Linked DNA regions of Homo sapiens: regions 1 and 2 are each reported to be linked to region 3. Evidence: microRNA targets listed by miRTarBase, many of them from high-throughput screens and not tested one by one. Region 3 holds a microRNA gene; each other region holds the end of a gene's coding sequence.
What was found. The annotated mature microRNA hsa-miR-486-3p reads CGGGGCAGCUCAGUACAGGAU and lies in region 3 at 2,643-2,663, opposite strand. An mRNA with a match to its seed (bases 2 to 7 or 8) in the 3' UTR can be bound and repressed. Matches are read on the target gene's strand: a 7mer-m8 pairs with bases 2 to 8, a 7mer-A1 pairs with bases 2 to 7 and ends in A, and an 8mer does both.

Region 1 (5,000 bases), not on the chromosome of region 3:
TGGACACTTGGGTTGTTTCCATCTTTTGGCTACAGTGAATGATATTGCAATGGACAGTAACACAGAAGCATCTGTTCCAGCCCTTGTTTTCTATTATTTTGGGTATAGTCCTAGGAGTGGAACTGCTGGATCATATAGTAATTCTATATTCAACTTTTTGAGGAACCACCAAGCTGTCTGTTTTCATTCCCATCAGCAACGGACAACGTTTCCAGATGCTCTCCAGTACTTGTTTTGTTTTGTTTTGTTTTGATAAAAGCCATCTTAATACTGTAAACTGGTGTCAAATTGTGGTTTTTATTTGCATTTACCTAATGACTAATGATATTGAGCATCTTTTCATATGCTTATTGGCCATTTGTATATCTTCTTCATATAAATGTTTATTCAAATCCTTTACTCATTTTTAAATTGTTTGCTTTTGTTGTTGAAATGTAGTTATATTCTGAATATTAATTCCTTATCACATATAGAGTTTGCAAATATTTTCTCCCATTCCATGGGTTGTCTTTTTACTCTCTTGATAGTATCCTTTGATGCAAAAATGTTAATTTTGATGAAGTCCAGCTTACCTGTTTTTTTCTTTCGTTGCTGGTGCTTTTGATATGTCCAAGAAATGTTTGACAAACCCAGTATCATGAAAATTTTTCCCTATATGCTAGCCCCTCAAGGATCAAAAGCAGCAATCAGTAATCAGAACCCACAACCTTGGTTTTTGGAAAACTGGGTCTTTATTGTCCAACCTGGCTCCAGCAAGCCACACTAAGTACCTGAGCTGCTGTCCCCACAACTGACTGCCCTGGGGCTGATCAAGGTGGGTGGTAGTCACCACTAAGTAAAGAGCTGAAATTGACCAAAACTTGCCAGCCTCCTCATCAAGCTTTCTCCTGGGTGCTGCAAGTGTTCCCTAAGATCCTGAATTCCAAAATAGTTGCATCAGACAGCTCTTGCCAGTTCAATTGTTTTAATGGAGGGATAGATTCCAGGAGCTTCTTATCTCCACCATGGAGCTTGATATCGTCTTTGAGTAACCAGATTTTATGGCCAGCATAAAACACTGGAAGTTTTAGCCCTAACATATGTAAGTTGTCTCTTTCAAGAAATTCACACTGGCAGGCTGTATACTGGCTCCACTGATGGTGCCAATTCCCTTCTCTGCAACAACTGAGCTCTGGACACCTCATTCCTGCAACTTCTGAGCCCCCTTCACTCTGTTCAACTCAGAGGCCATTCTCATCCCACCCAGGGGCCAGCATGAGTGGCACTGCCTGTTGGTGGCAGCTTAGAACAGACCAGGGGTCTCACTCCATAGCCAGTGCCAGGAAAGCATCTTTCTTCCTTCTGGAGGTAAAAAGAGAATTAAAACATAGCTTATCTCCAGAGCTGAATCAGAAAACTTTTTCTATTGCCTGCTTGTAGAATATATTTTCTCAATGAAAACAATATCCAAAAGGGTGGCTTGAAATCTATAATATAATTTATTTTTTATTTTTTTTTTAAGTTTTTGAGATAGGGTCTCACTCTGTTGCCCAGGTTGGAGTGCAGTGGCACGATCATAGCTCACTGCAGCCTTGGCCTCCCGGATTCAAACAATCCTCCCACCTCAGCCTCCTGAGTAGTTGGGACTACAGGTGTGTGCCACCATGCCCAGCTAATTTTTTTTTTTGATGTTTTGCAGAGATGGAGTCTCCCTGTATTGCCCAAACTGGTCTCAAACTCCTGGCCTCAAGTGATCCACCCACCTTGGCCTCCTAAAGTGTTGGGATTACAGGTGTGAGACACTGCACTCATTTTTAGGTAAATTACAACCCCTAAGGTTTTTTGTGGTTGAGAAACATACTAGCTCTCATAATACTGGGATAAGAGTTTCTGGGCTCCACAGGTTTTGCAGATTATTAAGTGGCTGTCTGTCTGTCTATCATGAATCAGCCTCCCAACATTAAATCTCTTCATTCAGAAAAGATAGAGGAAGATTTTCTTTTTTAAAAAAAGTTTATTTTCCACACTATTTGTACAGCTGTAAACTCAAGGAATCATCCAATACTTGTACAAATCTGGGAGAACAGTTAATAAGCACCTTCAGTGGTTTCCACAGTTTAAGAATTTACCATTAAAAAATTTTAGAATAAATCTAATAAAATGAATAAAATAGTTATAAAAATCATACAAAATCATGATGAACATTTGATATAGAGGGTTTAATATGAAACGATAAATACAAAAAGTGAGACTAATTTATGGATTTGGGCTACGTAAAAGACCTACATGGTCCTCGAATCTTGTGATTCTTGGGGCTATATTTGCCTCTCAAGACAAACTCCAATTATTCAAGGAAGACTTTCTTTCAATTCAGGTTCCAATGTACTGCAGAAGCAAGTGAGGACAAAGTCAGGAGAAGGTGGGGCAGAGAGGCTGAGTGTACTGGGGTTTGAGGAAAAGAGGAGAGACTCTTTTCCCCAAAGAGAGTATCAGGCAAATTCTTCCATGTTCTCAAGTATAAGTGGTCTTTGGCAAAATGTACCATTTTCTTTTTGGAGTTACTTAAGAGTTTTACTTATTGCTGTTCTTAAATTCCTTCCCCTACCACTTCCTCTTGGGCTTTTTTATTTCTCTTGTTGATCAATCTCTTTTTTGTGATACTTTTCATTGAATCATCTCGACTCCTTTATCCCATCCTTTACTGACTCAAACTCCTTATGCTGAACTTTTCAATCCAAAATTTCTATTGTTTTAGGACTCTGGGAAGCAGTTGATAAAAAGATAACACGAGCTACTGATATGGTCAGGAGATGTTTTCTAAACAAATTGTAGAAATATAAACATGAAATGTGGCAATGATCCCTTTAATTAGATCATTGAGCAATAAAGGATATGAACCATTAGTATAAATATTCAATTCAGTCTTTCCGGATTGTGTTGTTAGATAAGAATACATCCAAAAAGGGCCACAGATCGAGGGAGAAACCAAGGAGGGGTGAGGTCATGGTTGAGTGTAAATTGGTTCTGTCATGTGGAGGCCGGAGGTGAGGGACTGTGGTGGGACATCATCTGGTGCCAGCCCCATCCTGTACCTCAGATAGGTCTCCGTGAAAAGGAGGGACATCAGTGCAAGCAGTGGGGCTAAAGACCAGCACAGCAACAGAGACTAGAACCTTGGATGCAAGTATTTTGGGCAAAGAGGAATAATTAGTAATCTTTGGTATAATTTAAGGCACATCAAAAAAATCCCCTATTCTCAAATATCTGACCTACACCTTGAAATTCCTACCATTGGACATTCTTTTGATTTAAGCCTTTAACTAACAAATGCCAATATCCTACTGCTCAAATATTGACATTCTATCTGGGAGGGGCTGCTCATTATCATCCACCAAATGCCCATAGATCTCTAGGACAGGGTAGGTTTTGATGAAAAAGCAGCGCATGAATATTATAATGGGGGTCTTAGACAAGATGATGATGGTGAGGAACTGAGGAGTAAAACTATAGGACTATAATAAAGAAGAAATTCAGAGCACCAAAACAAAACATTAAGGAATGCTAATTTCCTCCTTAACTCCCAACTTTTCCTAGTCAGGCCCCGGCTCATAGGTCAAGGAGCTGACAGGACGGTGGGTACCTCAAAGCGAGGCTGAGCTCATAAGGCCACAGGGAAGGGTGCAACTCAAATTTGGGAGGTTCTGTTCACCACTGGGGGGCTAGTATTGGGAAAAGGTCCTAGGACACTGGGATGGGCATGTAATCCTCACTCAGGGGTGTATAAGTCTGTCTGAGGGTTGGGGGTAGGGGTGGAGGGTTCTGTCCTTGTGTAGGGGTGGAGACTTTTCTATTAGAGAAGTCCAGGGTGCATGTTTTGGGGAACAGTGAGGGAAAAGTTGTTGGGGCTCAGGCTGGGCTGGGTCTGGGCCTAGTGGCCACTCAGCCAGAGGACACTTTTCAATCTGGACCAAGTTGCTTCAAGTAGAGTGTTGCTGTGAAATACTTGGAAAGGAAATAAGGCACTCTTGTCTTCATTTCTGTTCGATACAGTCAACTCCCAAGGTGTTGTCAGGGCAACGGCAGGTCCTGCTCCCTGGGGTGGCCAAGCATAGGTGGGTGCAGCCGCCATTGTTCACTGAGCAGTAGTTATGGCCTGGAAAAGGCAGAAATCAGTTCAATAGCCCTCTCTCTGATCTGACTCCATAGCCATTTAAGATAGTGGGCTCCTTCTTGTGTGTGATCCCCCTTTTAGTTTCCTTGAAGCCATGCTAGGAAGGCTTCAGGAGAATGGGGACACTGTGCTAGGCAGTCAGCTGAGCTGATCCATTGTTTGTTTTATCAGCATTAAACCAGACACAAACACTGATTCCCAACTTGGGGGTTATGCAGATTTTCTACTAAGGCTATTAAACAGATCTCAGGGGGAAGTTCTCCAGCTCTGATTATAACATAGAATTGGAATTTTAAAGTGCAAAGTTCTTTTTATGTAGCTTGCACTCCTAGCTTCACACTGACAGAAGAAGATGAGGGAAGCTGAGAAGGAAAGTGGGTGAGGGGAGAGGCCTTCAAGAGGCAGCATAGCATAGACTCCAGGGCCAGGCTGCCTGGACTTGCCCCTGTGAGCTGTGTGACTTGGAGCAAGTTGCTTCAGTTTGCTTATTTATGAAATGAACATAATAATAGTACCTACCTCACAGGGTTGCTATGAGGATTACATGAACTAACAAATACAAAGTATTTAGAACTCTAAGTGAGTTGATATATGTAAAGTTCATAGCTCACAGTAAGTGCCACACATATGTTTTCAATTCTTATTATTAATTATTGTTATTGCTGTTAGGCCAGATGGATGGACTTTTAAAGGAGCAGAGATCCTAACATTGTAATATCCTAACCTGACTATTTGGAACCTGAAGACCCTATGCTTTTATATCCAGCCCAAAACTCAATGCTTTTCCTCATCCTGACAACTTCATGACCTAATATTTTCTGTTTATTTAACTGGTTCACCTGCTAATGAA
Region 2 (5,000 bases), not on the chromosome of region 3:
ACCAGGGTACTGACCACCTCTCCGCCCCCGGCCCCGGGGTCCTGACCACCTCTCCGCCCCCGGCCCCGGGGTCCTGACCACCTCTCCGCCCCCGGCCCCGGGTTCCTGACCACCTCTCCGCCCCCGGCCCCGGGGTCCTGACCACCTCTCCGCCCCCGGCCCCGGGTTCCTGACCACCTCTCCGCCCCCGGCCCCGGGGTCCTGACCACCTCTCCGCCCCCGGCCCCGGGTTCCTGACCACCTCTCCGCCCCCGGCCCCGGGGTCCTGACCACCTCTCCGCCCCCGGCCCCGGGTTCCTGACCACCTCTCCGCCCCCGGCCCCGGGGTCCTGACCACCTCTCCGTCCCCAACCCCGGGGTCCTGACCACCTCTCTGCCCCCGGCCCCAGGGTCCTGCAGGCAGGGCTGGAGGTGGAGCGGCTCCGACTGCGGAATTTCTATCACCACTACCACTCCAAGAGGGGCATGTGGAGCGTCCGCAGCAGGAAGGGCTCTCGCACGGGGGCGTCTTGAGGACGGGCAGCCCCTCCCAGCCCCGGTGGGAGTCCCGAGGCAGCTGCTGGGGGCTGGGCTTTGAGCTCGGTCCCGAGAGACCCGGCAGGGCTGGTCAGAGGGGCACAGCCACCGCCTGTGCCTGCCCCTCTCTGGCCCACTGGGCGTCGTGCCCCTCCCCGGAGAGGCAGCCTTCACGGCGGGTCAGGGCCTGGCCTTGGTCCCCACTCTGCGATGATTTCTGTGAAATTTTGCTGTAGCGATGACATTGTTTTCAGAATTTCCAAGAGTTCTGTCTGTTCTGTTTTTTATTCAGAATGAAATGAAATATTTTTTTTAGTTCTGACTAGTCCTCTGTGCCTGTTCTCTTGAGAGGTAGAGTCCTCTCCCCTGGGGGACCCTGAGCACGACCTCCTGACTCCCAGCCGCAGCCCTTCCGGACCTCTCCTTCTCCTACCCCCAAGACCACTTTCCCCTTCCTGCCTGTGAGGTTCTGTGCCGGGCCCTGTGGGGAGGGGGCTTCCGACTTCCTCCGCCCTGTGTCTATGGGGTCTGTGCCCGCTGATAACAGACATAGATAGCACAGGGCCCTCCCACACTGAGGCGAGGAATGAGCAGTCACCACCTCAGTTCCCCTCATTCTGCAAACAGAATCGGGGTGTCATTCCCACCCCAGCCTCCTCTAGGGTGGAGGAGCTGCTGCACCCAGGTGGGGCATGTCGTGTGCTGGGGTTGGGGGTGATCAGGCAGAACTCAGGGTTGCCAGAAACAGAAACCCAACTCAAGCCAGTGAAGCCGTAATCAGGGGGCCTGTATGACTTTGGAACCCTCCAGGTCAGGGTCAGCAGGACACCAGAGAAGGACAGACTCAGAGGCTGGTCGAAGCCCACTCCTGCCTTGTCTCCTCTCTGCCTGTGGGTCCAGCTCAGTCCTGGCCTGGGCCAGGTCACAGGAGGGAGGCTGTACTCTGCCAGGCAGCGAGTGAGTGTGTGAGTTCCCTGTGGCTGCCGTAGCAAATTGGCACAAATGTAGTGGCTTAAAAAAATTATTATCTTACAGTTCTGGAGATAAAAAGTCCTAGAACTAAGCCCGGCACAGTGGCTCACGCCTGTAATCCCAGTACTTTGGGAGGCTGAAGCGTCCGGATCCCTAGACACGGTGGTGTGTACCTGTAGTCCCAACTACTTGGAAGGTTGAGGCAGGAGGATCACCTGAGCCCGGGAGGTCAGGGCTGCAGTGAGCTGTGGTTGCATCACTGCACTCCAGCCTGGGAAACAGAGCAAGGCCCTGTCTCGGAAAAAAAAAATGCTAAAATTAAGGTGTCAGCAGGGCTGGTTCCTTCGGGAGACTTAGGTGTGAGTCTGCGTCCGTGCCTTCTCCAGCTTCTCAAGGCCACCTGGATTTCAGCAGCTTGGCCTCTTCCCCTCTCTCACTCACTCTCTCTCTCCCTCTCTCCCTCATCTCCTCCTGTGACTCTGACCCTGCTGCCTTCTCTTATAAGGCCCCCTGCGATGACACTGGGCCCTCCCAGCAAACCCACGATAACCATCACGTCCCTCACTCAGTCACATCTGCAAAACCCCTTTGCCATGAAGGTAACAGTCACAGGTTCTGGGACTAGGACAGGCACATCTTGAGCGGTCACTCTTCTTTCTACCTCCTCGTTCACACGGGGTGGGAAAATAGCTCCTAGGCCCAGCAGCCAGAATTGTCCTCTGCAGATACGTCCTGAGGTCACTGCTCACCGTGCACTCACGGCAGCTGGGCGGTGGAGCCGAAGGAAGAACCAGGGGGACCTGCCGTGGACCAGAGCGGCATCCAGTCGCCTGGTGTGGGCTTCACAGGTCCTGCTGGTCCACAGGTGTGCAGGTCCACAGAGGTGCCCGCAGGGCAGGGGACATGGCTGGCCACACACATGCCCAGAAGCCATGTGCTGACCAGCTGTCCTGCCCGCTGATCCCTGTGTATCTAGTTCAGATGGACTTGTCCCCACTCACAGATGTTTCGCAGCAAGAGAAGAACTAGCCTTGGATTTAATGATCCACGCTAACCCAAGAAAATGAGAAAAGGATAGAAGAAATGTAAACCACAGGCAGGGGAAGCCTGCACATCAGAAAGAGAATTAACCTTGGAAAACAAAAAAGTCAAAATTCCATGTAATCTGGACGATTCACACCATCATTTAATCCGTTTAGCAATGATTCATTGCACACTCACTACATGTCCCGCACTGAGGAAAAGGCAGGGAACGGAACAGACAAAAACTGCTGCCCCCAAGGATCTTACATTCTAATACGGGGGGGAGCGGGGCACGACGACGCCATCAATAACACATCTGGTATACCAGCTGGCGGCAAGGGCAGTGGAGAGAAAGGAAGCCCGGGAAGGCAGCAGCCCATGTGAGCGTGACTGCGTTTCTAAGCAGGGTGCTCAGAAAGACCAAGCGTGAGAAGGTGAAGGCGGCCGAGGACACAGGCGGGGGAGGGCAGGGGTCAGCGGCAGCCTTTGAGGAAATTTCTTAAAAATCAATGATAAGGCTGGGCATAGTGGCTCACACCTGTAATCTCAGCACTTCGGGAGGCTGAGGCAGGAGTGATGGCAGCGGTGGCCCATCTAGAGTGGACACTGCCAAGATGCTGGCCGCAGCGGAGAGGCATGGCAGGGCCTCCCACTCCACAGAGCAGGCAGGAGCTCGGCCCTCCTGGGCACTGGGTTCGTTTGCGTGCACCTCAATATTCCTGTGCTCTTGGGGGCCCAGGAAGGCCCCCACCCGGCCCCCTGTAGGCTCAGAAGTACCTGCTCCTGCTGCCCCTGCGGAGCCTGGTGCTTCCAGTAGCTGGAACCGGGGCCCACAGTCCGCTCCCAGAGGTGTCTCCCAGCATGGTTGCGAGTCGGGTGAGGGGCGGCCCCAGGCTGCCCCTGAGTGTTGGAACTGCAGGGGGATCTTGTGGTGACATCGCCTCCCTCTGCCCCGGATGCCGACCCGGGCTCTGTGAGGGCCGAAAGTCTTCACCCCAGGCTGCAAGGAGGCGGACAGGGGAGCAGGATGACTGCAGGAGCAGCAGTGGCGGCAGCAGGTCCCCAGTGCCCCATGTCCCCAAGGCTGCCGACGGTGCCACCCCCACCCTCACACAGCTGGGCAAGACCCACTCCCAGGCCTGGAACCCCCACAGCCGGGCAAGACCCACTCCCAGGCCTGGAACCCCCACAGCCGGGCAAGACCCACTCCCAGGCCTGGAACCCCCACAGCCGGGCAAGACCCACTCCCAGGCCTGGAACCCCCACAGCCGGGCAAGACCCACTCCCAGGCCTGGAACCCCCACAGCCGGGCAAGACCCACTCCCAGGCCTGGAACCCCCACAGCCGGGCAAGACCCACTCCCAGGCCTGGAACCCCCACAGCCGGGCAAGACCCACTCCCAGGCCTGGAACCCCCACAGCCGGGCAAGACCCACTCCCAGGCCTGGAACCCCCACAGCCGGGCAAGACCCACTCCCAGGCCTGGAACCCCCACAGCCGGGCAAGACCCACTCCCAGGCCTGGAACCCCCACAGCCGGGCAAGACCCACTCCCAGGCCTGGAACCCCCACAGCCGGGCAAGACCCACTCCCAGGCCTGGAACCCCCACAGCCGGGCAAGACCCACTCCCAGGCCTGGAACCCCCACAGCCGGGCAAGACCCACTCCCAGGCCTGGAACCCCCACAGCCGGGCAAGACCCACTCCCAGGCCTGGAACCCCCACAGCCGGGCAAGACCCACTCCCAGGCCTGGAACCCCCACAGCCGGGCAAGACCCACTCCCAGGCCTGGAACCCCCACAGCCGGGCAAGACCCACTCCCAGGCCTGGAACCCCCACAGCCGGGCAAGACCCACTCCCAGGCCTGGAACCCCCACAGCCGGGCAAGACCCACTCCCAGGCCTGGAACCCCCACAGCCACCTCAACCTCGCTTCCTGCCGTGTCCCGGGAGCCCGTGAGCACCCAGCTGAAGGCACAGCCGGGTCTCGTGGAACCAGCCCTGGGAGCAGTGGGTTTATTTGTGCAGGGTTGGCAGGGCGGGAGCACCACGGGGGCAGCTGCAGCCAGCCAGGTTGCTGCTGTGTGGACCCAGGCCTCCTGGTGGTCTTGGGGGCCAGGGAGGACCCCCTAACACCACAGGCTTGGGGGTGTCCCTGCTCCTGGCGCCCACTCTGATCTTGGAGTGGGGTCGGGGCCAAGCCCGGGTGTTGTTGCAGCCCAGCCGGGTGTGCACCCTCAGAGCAGTGCCGAGATGCCAGTCCCCTGCCACCTCAGCCCCTCCAGACTTTGGGCACCAATGAGTGTGGGAGGGAGGCCAAGATGGAGCTGGGGGCAGCTCAGTGCTGGCCTGTGGGCACCCCTTGGCACGAGCGGCCTGGGCACCATGGGCGGCAGTGGGAGGCAGACAGGCTCCTGGGAGGGAATGGGCAGGTCCCTGGTGAGGCTCCACCTTCAAGCCAGGGTGGGCCTGAAGGCTGGGGGCCAGGCTGAC
Region 3 (5,000 bases):
AATAAATACACACACACACACACACACACACACAGAGAGAGAGAGAGAGACACACACACACACAAAATTAGCCAGGCATGGTGGCGCATGCCTGTAGTCACAGCTACTCAGGAAGCTGAGGCAGAAGGATCACTTAAACCCAGCAGTTCAAGTCTGCATAAGCTATGATTGAGCCACTGCACTCCAGCCTGGGTGACAGAGTGAGACCCCATCACAATAATTAAATAATTAAAAGGAAGTGAAAATGCATTGGATTGGTAGCAGATATTAACTCAGAGACATGACCTTGCCTGTCAAGTGTGGGGCACGGTGCTAGCTATGGGTAAAATAGAGGAGGAGCTGAGGCAGGATCTCGAATGTGCTTCTGCTTAGGCGCAGCTCTCATCACCCTTGAGCAAGGCTCCTTGTGCGTCTGTCTTGCCTCCTGCACTGTGAGCTGCTTGCAGGCAGGGACAGTGTCTCACTGATGTTTCACCTCCCACTCAGAGCACACGGCAGATACAGAGTAAAGGGTTTGAAGATTTGGACAGGTGAATACGGGAATGGGTGGGTGAAAAAGAGATGCCCTCTGCCCTTAGGCTCATGGGAGTAGAATGGGGAAGAGCACAAACTCCCATCCATATCAAAAAGCAAAACAGAAGGCTGTGGGCTCGAGGGGGAGGTCACACCCAGTCACACCTTGGTCATGAAATGACACTGCCAAGGCCCCTTCAGGGCTGTCTAGCAGAGGGTTTTCCATTAAGCAATGGGGCAAAGGCTGTCCCTCTTCTTGGCCTCTCAAGGAGGGGCTCCTAGGACAAAAGCTACCTCCCCCTCGGAGCTCATTCCTGGGAACTGCTGTTCTGAAGCTCTGTCTTGAGGGCTTGACCAGCCCCCCCGCCTTTTTTTTTTTGACACAGAGTGTTGCTCTGTCAACCAGGCTGGAGTGCAGTGATGCAATCTCAGCTCACTGCAACCTCCATCCACCAGGTTCAAGTGATTCTCCTGCCACAGCCTCCTGAGTAGCTGGGATTACAGGCACCTGCCACCACACCGGGCTAATTTTTGTATTTTTAGTAGAGACAGGGTTTCACCATGTTGGCCAGGCTGGTCTCAAACTCCTGACCTCAGATGATCTGCACGTCAGCCTCCCAAAGTGCTGAGATTACAGACATGAGCCCCCGAGCCCGGCCTGACCAGCCCTTTCCTCCTTCCCTTCCTTTCCTAGATCATTCGCAAGGTGGTTCGACAGATAGACTTGTCCAGCGCCGATGCCGCCCAGGAGCACGAGGAGGTGACTGTAGAGGGGCCCCTGGAGGATCCCAGTGAGCTGGAGGTCGATATTGATTACTTTATGAAACACTCCAAGGTACTGAGGCGCCCGCGGCCCTGGGGGACCCAGCGCCATCACTGCTGCCTTGCTCTGCCGGGCCGTCTGCATGACACCTCCCTCCACTCACCTCTTTATGAGCTCTCTCTCCAGTCTCTCTTCTCCCTGGTGGGCAGTGTGTCTGCCACCTCCGTGTGGCCTCCTTTCGATCTTCTGCCTGTGTTCTGCCCGTCTTTGCGATCTGTCCTGCTTTCTGTCTCTGCTGCTGTCTGCAGGTGGAGCTGAGAGGGAGTGGCCTACAGCCGGACCTGATAGAGGGCAGGAAGGGGGCGCAGATAGTGAAGCGGGCCAGCCTGAAAAGGGGGAAACAGTGACCCCGAGCCGCTCTCCTTGGAGTAGCCTCTCGGGAGGTAACGCTGCCCTTCTCATCCCCTCTGCATGGCCTGGTCTTCAGTGGAGTGGCTGCTCCCTGTCTCACCCTATCCCCTCCCAGCCACCCCAGCATGATGTGGGACAAACAACTTGTTGTTGTGTCTCGAGGCAGAGATTCTCACTTCCCAACCCTGCTAACAGTTGGCTCTGAACCCCAGCTTCCTCATCAAGGAAACAGAGTTAATAATATCCACTTATCAGGGACCGCACGGTTTTGTAAGAATGCCTTTTGGGCCGGGCACAGTGGCTCATGTCTGTAATCCCAGCATTTTGTGAGGTCGAGGCAAAAGGATTGCTTTAGGCCAGGAGTTCAAGACCAGCCTGGGCAACAGAGCAAGACCCCATCACAAAAAAAAGAAAAAAAAAAGCCAGAAAGAAAAAAATGCTCTTTGAAAAGTAAAAGCACTCTGTAAATCTAAGTGGTAATATTATCTTGGAAACCAAGCAATGGGGATCTAGAAAGCAGTGGACAGGGCATTGAAGAGGACAGGAGAGTTGGTCTGGGCTGTGATGCTTCAACATAAGAGCTCCAAGACTGAGGACTGGACTGTCTCTTGAACCTGGAGCCCAGCTACAGTTCTCACCAGGCCAAGGCTTAGCTTCTCTTTGGTGTTTTGTGAAACACGTTGCTCCCTTGCTTTCTAGGAAAGGGCTGAGCCGACAGGCCTAAGGGGTGGACGACGTGCTTTCTGCAAGTCAGGAGACCGTCAGGGTTGGGGCCGGGGCCTGGGCTGTGGTGCATGTGTGTGAGCATGGGGCAGTGTGGCCACAGAGCAGGGGCATGCCGTGCCGTGCCGTGCCATGAGGAAGGGACATGAAGACGCTGTGCGACCATCTCCAGCAGGTGTGTGTGGTGCTGGGGGCTTCAGCGGCCGGCTCTGATCTCCATCCTCCCTGGGGCATCCTGTACTGAGCTGCCCCGAGGCCCTTCATGCTGCCCAGCTCGGGGCAGCTCAGTACAGGATACCTCGGGGTGGGAGTCAGCAGGAGGTGAGGGGGCATGGTGGCCCCAGTGCAGCACTAACCAGGCCGTTACCATTCACACCCCAGGGCCTGACTCTGGGACCGAGCAGCAAGGAGGCTCTAGCTTTCTGCATTCGGCAAAAATCAGGGCCCGCTGCCTCCTGAGCCACCAAAAGTGCTGACTCTGGGCTTCCCAATATATCTCAGCACTTGGGCAAAAAAGAGGACTGGCAGATCCAGTTATAGGATAAAATTAGACCTGACACCTCAGCAGCTTAAGGAGGTCACCGTGTTAACCCCTGCACTGCCAGGGGTCCCACTAGGCTGCTGGTTTAGAAGACTCTGAGTAGCTGCTGTTGGGTCCTGGAAAGAACCCAAAGATGCAAATAATGTTTAAAAGCAGCAAAGGGAAAGGAAAAGTACACTTTTCTGACTTATTTTTCTTATGGTAGCAGTGGCGGCTGTGGCTTTAAATTTCTCTTTGGCTCAGGCTCTATGGATGCTCCTGAGTGGGAGAGAGGCAGCCCGAAAGCCAGGCTAGGGGGAAGGAGGGAGCCTTGAATTTCATTTTAATTTGCCGTAAGTGATCTGCAATGTGGCTGAAGCCCCCCAACCTCAGGTGATTAAGGACCGGACCACACTAGCATGGGTGTCAGAAACACGGAGCAGCCTGGCTCTGGGACAGCACTTGGCCCTCTGTCAGTGACAGGCACAGGGACAAGTGTGAGGGTGGCAGGGGGGTGGGGCGGTGGGGCGAGAGCAGTGGTGAGGGAGAGGCGGAGAAAAGCTCCTGCCAAAGTCCCAGAGGGTTAGGGGACAGCATTAAATGCCCTACCCTCCCAACCAGGGCAAAGGCTACAGAGAAGACGGTTGAGGGCCCAAAGGCTTCCTAATTTACTATCCGCATCCCCGACAAGCATGTACAGTCGATCCTCATCATTCACGGATTCTGCATTTGCGAATTCGTCCACTCGCTAACATTTATCTGTAGCCCCAAAGCTGGCACTCACCGTGCTTTGGCTCATTCATGGACACACACACAAGGGCAGAAAGTTTGAGTCGCCCAACCCGTGCAATCCCAGCTGAGGATGAACAATGCCACACTCTGCCTCTGTGCCTCATACTATAAATAAGTGTCCTCCTTGCAGCTTGTGTAGTGCCACATTTTTCACATTTTTGGTTTCATTGTTTAGAATGGCCCCTGAGGGCAGTGCTGAAGTGCTGTCTGGTGCGAAGTGCAAGAAGGCTGGGATGTTCCTTAAGGAGGGAATGGACATCAGATAAGCTCTGCTCAGGGATGAGTTAGAGTGCTTGTGGTGGTGAAGTCAGTGTTAATGAGTCAACCCTATATATTACATAAGGCGTCTTGAAACAGAAACGCATTTAACACAAAGTTATGTATTCATCAGTTGACCAAAATATTGTGGCCAGAGGCTCATGGGAGCCTAACCTTGTATTTCCCTTAGGAGCAGTGGTTCAGTATTTGCTAATTCCGTGTTCACAGCGACTATTTATTTATTTATTTATTTATTTATTTATTTATTTATATTTTGAGAGGGAGTCTCGCTCTGTCGCCCAGGCTGGAGTGCAGTGGCACTATCTCGGCTCACTGCAACCTCCATCTCCCGGGTTCAAGTGATCTTCCTGCCTCAGCCTCCTGAGTAGCTGGGATTACAGGCATGTGCCACCACCCTTGGCTAATTTTTGTATTTTTAGTAGAGACGGGGTTTCACCATGTTGGTCAGGCTCGTCTCGAGCTCCTCACCTCAAGCAACCCGCCCTCCTCAGCCTCCCAAAGTGCTGGGATTACAGGCATGAGCCACTGTGCACAGCCTCAAACAGCGACTAATTTATAGAACAGAGCTATGGCAAATGGCTGTATTTGTTTCAGAGAGTGAAAGCTGGAGCTTGTGAGTCTAGAATCAAGGCCTCCTCCTGCTTCCAGGTTGTATGGCCTTAAGTCATTTAACCGCCCTAAGCTTCAGTCTCCTCAAGGGAGGATGAAAATGTCCCTTTCGAATGTGCTACACTTCAAGAAAAAGGTTTAGAAATAATAATGGTAACTGTGAGCACTGATGTGAAGAGAGTAAATAAGAACATATATGCTCTGGGACTCAAACAATTGCAGGTCTTGTTTGTAGTGTGACTCGGAGCAAGTCAAATGACTTCCCTAAGCCTCAGGTTCCTTAGCCATAAACTAGCAATAATGCCAGCATTTCCCTTGTAGGATGGTTATGATGGTTGCTGAGTTTATGTTTGTGAAAGGGCTGTCTAGGGCCGGGCATAGTGACTCATG

Region 1: miRTarBase lists NID1 as a target of hsa-miR-486-3p. Seed matches in the 3' UTR shown: 8mer at 2,400-2,407.
Region 2: miRTarBase lists B4GALNT4 as a target of hsa-miR-486-3p. Seed matches in the 3' UTR shown: 7mer-m8 at 635-641.

Annotation. Positions count from the first base shown.
Region 1 is chr1:235,973,857-235,978,856 of GRCh38, forward strand. NID1 (nidogen 1) reads right to left here. Exons shown (of 20, transcript NM_002508.3): 20 at 1,974-4,132. The coding sequence ends at 4,011. Among named protein-coding and RNA genes, the nearest start is that of LINC02768, 3.8 kb to the left of the region's middle.
Region 2 is chr11:381,280-386,279 of GRCh38, forward strand. It overlaps B4GALNT4 (beta-1,4-N-acetyl-galactosaminyltransferase 4), which reads left to right. Exons shown (of 20, transcript NM_178537.5): 20 at 390-838. The coding sequence ends at 513. Among named protein-coding and RNA genes, the nearest start is that of PKP3, 10 kb to the right of the region's middle.
Region 3 is chr8:41,658,149-41,663,148 of GRCh38, reverse strand. MIR486-2 (microRNA 486-2) reads right to left here and starts at 2,705; the gene lies at 2,642-2,705. ANK1 (ankyrin 1) reads left to right here. Exons shown (of 43, transcript NM_000037.4): 41 at 1,208-1,273; 42 at 1,585-1,719. The coding sequence ends at 1,683. MIR486-1 (microRNA 486-1) reads left to right here and starts at 2,641; the gene lies at 2,641-2,708.